Linked DNA regions of Homo sapiens: region 2 is linked to region 1. Evidence: fine-mapped expression QTL. Tissue or cell type: tibial artery. Region 1 holds a variant in brackets; the other region holds the start of a gene. All regions are shown on one strand. Distances are between the middles of the regions.

Region 1 (2,759 bases):
AGAGAAAATAATAAAGAAAAACAGGAGCGGCCGGGCGCGGTGGCTCACGCCTGTATTCCCAGCACTTTGGGAGGCCGAGGCGGGCGGACAGCTTGAGCTCAGGAGTTCGAGAACAGCCTGCGCAACATAGCGAGACCCCCGTTTCAAAAAACACACGAAAAAATTAAAATTAAAAAACAAACAAACCAGGCGCAGAGCGGTTGTGGAGAAGGGAAGCGAAGGGTTGGAGTTTCGTTTCGTGGGAACCATAGAGAAGGGCCAGCCTCCCGGCTTCCTAGAGAGGCTGTAGGGACCGACGGCCGGCCAGCTAATGCTTCCGTCTTGGCCACCTTGCGAGCGCTCGGGTTGAGTTTCCCGGGCTTCCCTGACTCGGCTACCTGTTCTGGAGGTCAGGCTTTGGGCCCTTGCAGAGGTCGCCGAGGGGCCCGCGCCGCCGCCAGAGCCTGGGCCCAGTCCCCAGTCTTCAGAGACGCCCTCGACCTTCCTGCTCCGAGGAGCTGGCCTGATGTCCTCGGGTCGCGGTATTCATGGGGAGGATGGGAGCCGTGACTATAGGGTCTCCTGCTTCCCAGGGTGGAGCGTTCAGATCCCGGTTAGGTCTTCGGTCAGCATCACCCGCTGGGACATTAAGCGTCTTACCCTTGTCACCCGGGGCTGGGTCACCACTTATATTTTGTCCTGCAGCCTGTGGTTTGTTTAGGGGTCCCCGTTATATCCTACTTTCTCTCCAGAGACTTGTTTTGGGTTTTTGCCATGAACACTAGAAGCATTCAATACAAACTGTTTAGTAATGCATTCATAGTGGGGCCAAGAATTTTTTTTAAAAAACAGCCACGAATCCACTGCAGTTCTTGACTCTTACTTTACAGATATTCTTTCTAGAGTTTCCAGTGTCACCAAGCAGATCTATAGGAGAATATGCAGAGGGAGCATTTGCAACATCCCATGAATCAGTGGAGAGGGTGAATGACAGCAGCTAGTGTGCCAAGAATATCTGCAATGCTAGTGGCAGGAGACAGAGGGGAAGAGGCGGCAAGTGTAGGAGACGAGACAGATCAGTCTCATTGTGGTTCTCTCTTAGCTCCGCAGGTTCTTACTTTTTCAAACCTAGAGGGCAGTGCATGAAGCCAGGGGTCATCAGCCATGCTCCAGACAGTGTGGTTCCAGGTGAGCAGAGCTTTCTTTCAGCTTTCCATACTCAGAACAGATATGGAAGGTCAGTACAGCCCCAGTAGCCTGACTTGGCCAGTCTCATGCTTAGTTTTACATCCTTCAATAAAGTATGTAAAAACAGTATGCGAGGGGAGTTGACGAACGAGAGTAGGTGAATTTGGGAGAGTCAGGTAGGTTGGAAAAGAAGGAATGAATTATCCTAGAAAGTGGGAATCT[G/A]CATTCATGAGAACTGAAAGTGTGGCCTGGAGATGAGCAGCTTTTGCATTACAGAGGGCTCTTGTTAGGCAAAATGTCAGGCCCCCTCCCCAGATCTCCTAAATCAGAATCTACATTTTTACAAGATCTGGAAAATTAAAGGGCAGATTAAAATTTGAGGAGTGCTAGTCTGCGTTCACAGTACACAAAGAAAAGCCATTTCTGAGGTTAAATAGACACTTCCAAGGGAGGAGTTTACCCTGCAGACCACTCAGTTAAGGTACAGTGAAGCCAGAACTGGAAACATGTGGAAAATGTAGATTGATGAGGGAGATGTATTTTTGGAGGAATGATGAGTTTGGAGCTGAAGCCAGTGCCTTTAGCTCAATGCGAAGACGTCAGTCTAACCTCTGTGAGAGTCTATATCCTTTCTTGGCTACAAATTCATGTAGCATTGGGAGGACTTTTCCCTCCAGTTTTCTTGGTGGTAGATGATGGTTTTACTGGATTTTTCTCCAGTGTCCTAGATCATGGAATGAGAAAGCTGAGTTTATCATGTAATGGATGTATCTTGTAATGAGAAAGCTCCATCCCAAGGACTTAAAAACAATGTGTGTGTCCTTTTGGTGGATATTGGACCATCCACTTCTGTTCGAGAACTTCAGCAAAAATTCATTCCTACAAGTCAGGAAGTGTGCTGTGGGGGTATGCTGTGCTCTCCTGGTGCTTTGCCTGAAGTACAGAAATCACTTAGGATTAGATTCCCCAAAGAGGACCCCAAATGACAGTGGATTAAACGAGGTAAAGGCTTCTCTCTCATACAAAAGTATCAAGAGTCAATACAGGGCTAGTGTGGCAGCTCCCCTATTATGCTCTCAGGCTCTGTCTTTCTGCTCTACCATCCTAGCAGTGTCTCACCTGCTCTAGGCCACTTTATTGTCCAAGGTGGCTGCTTGATCTCTAGCCATCATGTGTGCATTCCAGCTAGAAGAGGAGCTGCCCAAAAAAAGATGAACCTCTCTCTTTTAGGAACCTTCCCATAAGTCCCCAACAATATTTATACTTGCATTTCATTGGCCCCACTTGGTTGCCCGGGTTGAGTGCAACCTCAAGTAAAATTAGGATTCCAATACTAAGAAAGAAAGGGGGTACACACACACCTGTCAGTCTTTGCTACAATCTCTAAGAGGAACATTTGTCATTTAGAATCTTCTAGGAAGTTCCCCCAATCTCATCTGTGGTTGTAGTAAGTGCTGAGATTTAGATGATATCATGTGCCAGGTGATATCTTCGTGCGTTACAGATAATAACTTAATGCCATTCTTGTAAGAGTCCTTTCAGATAATTACTATTGTTATCCCAGTTTTACAAATGGGGGCAACTGAGGCACA
Region 2 (2,613 bases), 91 kb before region 1:
GAAAATTAGTGGATTTCTAGGAGAAAGCAGGCTATGGCAGGGTATAGCCAGGGACTCAGCTCTTCCTTCCAGACATGCAGGAACCATAAGGAGGGATGGTCAAACAGGGCCTGCTTAGGCCTCTTGCTGGGATCACTCCAAGGGTCTCTGGGGTCACTCAGAGGAGCCGGGAGGCTGCCTGCTGCTGTACACTGAGACAGACTCCTGGGGTGTTTGGATCACGGCAGCCCACATGCTGCCTTTTTGTTATCTTTTCTGTTTTGCCTCTTCCGGGCTGTACTTGTCTTGAGTTTTTGGCCTTATGACATCCATATTAAATGGGGTAGGGCAGAGCATTGCTCAGTAAACAGCAAGAATGGCCCTGGGCATGGCCAAGGCAGTTCTGCTAAGTGTGAAAGGGAATGTGCCTGCCATACTTTGTGCTTTAGGCCCAAGTGACCTAGGGGCCAGCCTGCCTACTGGCCTCACTCCCAACATTACAGGTGTTTGACTCTACTCCACCCCGTGGAGAGACGGAGCACAGGAGCCACCCACCGGGGGACCACATAAGGTCATGCACACCCACAGAGTGCCCAGTCCCTGCCTGGCCTTGTCCCCATTTTCCCTCCACCTAGGGTTGGGGTGACAATGGAGGTAACTAGAAGACAGATCAAAAGGTTCTTGGTCTTGACACAGATGCAAGAAGGAGGCAGATAATAGACACCTCCCTTCCCCCTCGCCCACATAGGCTCCGGTGGGTTCTCAGGGCAAGGCCTGGCTCCCTCCTCTCCGACTTCAGGTACAGGTGAGTGTGGAGGGAACTGAAAGAGGAAAGGTGAAGTGCTGTTTGGCTTCGACCTGGAGGGGGACAGAAGGCTCTCTGGGCAGGCAGGGCCGGTCTTTTGGCAAGAGGCGCGCTCTCTCTCCCTTCCCCTTCCATCGAGGGCTGGGTGTGAAGGTGAGAGCAATCAGAAAAGAAGGTGAAGAGGTACTTGGCCTTGACACGGACGGGGGGGGCGGTCCCAGGCCGAGGCCGCCCCGCCCCCGCCCCGCTATACCCGGCGCCGCCTCCCGGCGTCTGAGCTGACACCTCCTTAGCGCTGGCCGCGGGCCGCCTCTGCGGCAGCGCTAGTCGCCTTCTCCGAATCGGCTCCGCACAGGTAAGATCAGGGGACCCGGCGCCTGAGCTGCCGAGGAAGGAGTCGGGGGTGCTGCGTGAGACTGAGAGTTGGGAGGCAAAGAAACAAAATCGGATTTCCTCAGAGGGCCAGAGGAAGAGACTGAAACACGGTAGCCCCAAATCCTTGGGCGGCTGGGAGGTGGTCCCTGTCATGCCCACGACGGGTGGGCGCGTCTTTACCGACAGCCTGCATGGATCCGCAGATGTGCTGGGCGCTTAGATGCCTGCGGCTATGCAGAGACGCAGTCCAGAGAGGTGACCCCAGATCCTGGTGGGGGCTGGATCCCAGGGCCCCGACATCCCTTTGCAATTTCCAGCCAGCAGCTAAAGACTCCCTTCCCGGGGCTTTAGAGAGGCTCCAGGCTCGCGATCCATGAACACACAAAAACCTTCCTTGCTCATGTTCTGAAAAAAAGCCCCGCCTCAGCTTTGTGAATGTTAATAATAGGGGGAAGATTTGTTCTCTCTTGGGTGTGTGTACAGGTGGAACAATCTGCAGAAAAAGACCTTTTTTCGGAAAACCTTTTCAGTTTGAAGTTTCAGCAAATCCATTTTTCATTTCCTTTCATTTGGGGAGATGACATGAAATTTAAGCTCCAGCTTTGGGGCTGTCTCTGAAGTTCTGGGGTTCGGCTTACCTTTCCCGGGATGAGGTTTTGATTTGGAGGAAGTAAAATGGGTTTTGTCTTAACCTGGGCTCGTTCTTTAAACTTGTGAGGCCGGGGCGGTGGACTTACTGACATCCTGTATTCTCTCACCTGCAGCTAGGAGAAAAGATGTTCACTGTGCTGACCCGCCAACCATGTGAGCAAGCAGGTTAGTATCTCTCAGCAGGTAGCAAGCGTGGTTTTGCCAAATCGCAAGAGAACCCCAGCTTCGGCCTACAGTTTTTCATCCATATCCCCTGCAAATGATTGTTTAACTTTATTGGTTTGAGACTCAGTACTCAGCTGGGTTTCAACACCGGCATTCCTCAAATAAAAGTAATGCTTTTCATCAAAGCCACACAAAACAAGGACTAACATGCATGTTTCACTTAAATGGTTTTTCCGGTTTGTATAATCCATTAATTTGGCCCTTGTGGTTTCCCTTAGCTAGCTGTGTGTAACGTTTGCTTTAGAATACTGTATTGTTGATTTTGTGATCAATTGTACAGTACTTGGATCTTTCCTGTATTCCCATCCAAATGTTGCTGGCACAGTGCCTACAACACCCCCACCCCTCACTGTGAGTCAGTGTTGTTATGGTTGATACTGCAGGCACAAGTGCAGGATTTTCTCACACTGGAAGGCACACACACACAGACACACACACACACACACACACACACACACACACACACACTTCTAAGCTTGCCCCGCCTGCCTCTAGAGCACTTTTTGGAGTTGCTCATGTGGAAGCCCAGAAGGCTCTGGCTTCTCCAAGCTCAGGTAGGTACCTTGCAATTACCATGT

What was found. PIP is the estimated chance that this variant, and not a neighbour inherited with it, causes the effect.
Region 2: ENTPD3 starts here. The variant in region 1 is fine-mapped to the expression of ENTPD3 in tibial artery (GTEx, PIP 0.91).

What each region holds. Positions count from the first base shown.
Region 1 is chr3:40,476,837-40,479,595 of GRCh38, forward strand. ZNF619 (zinc finger protein 619) reads left to right here and starts at 286. Exons shown (of 5, transcript NM_001145093.4): 1 at 286-521; 2 at 1,082-1,167. The coding sequence starts at 1,144. RefSeq lists an enhancer at 460-599. The variant G/A (reference allele first, on the strand shown) is at 1,390.
Region 2 is chr3:40,386,123-40,388,735 of GRCh38, forward strand. ENTPD3 (ectonucleoside triphosphate diphosphohydrolase 3) reads left to right here and starts at 1,062. Exons shown (of 11, transcript NM_001248.4): 1 at 1,062-1,139; 2 at 1,924-1,975. The coding sequence starts at 1,936. RefSeq lists a silencer at 983-1,082.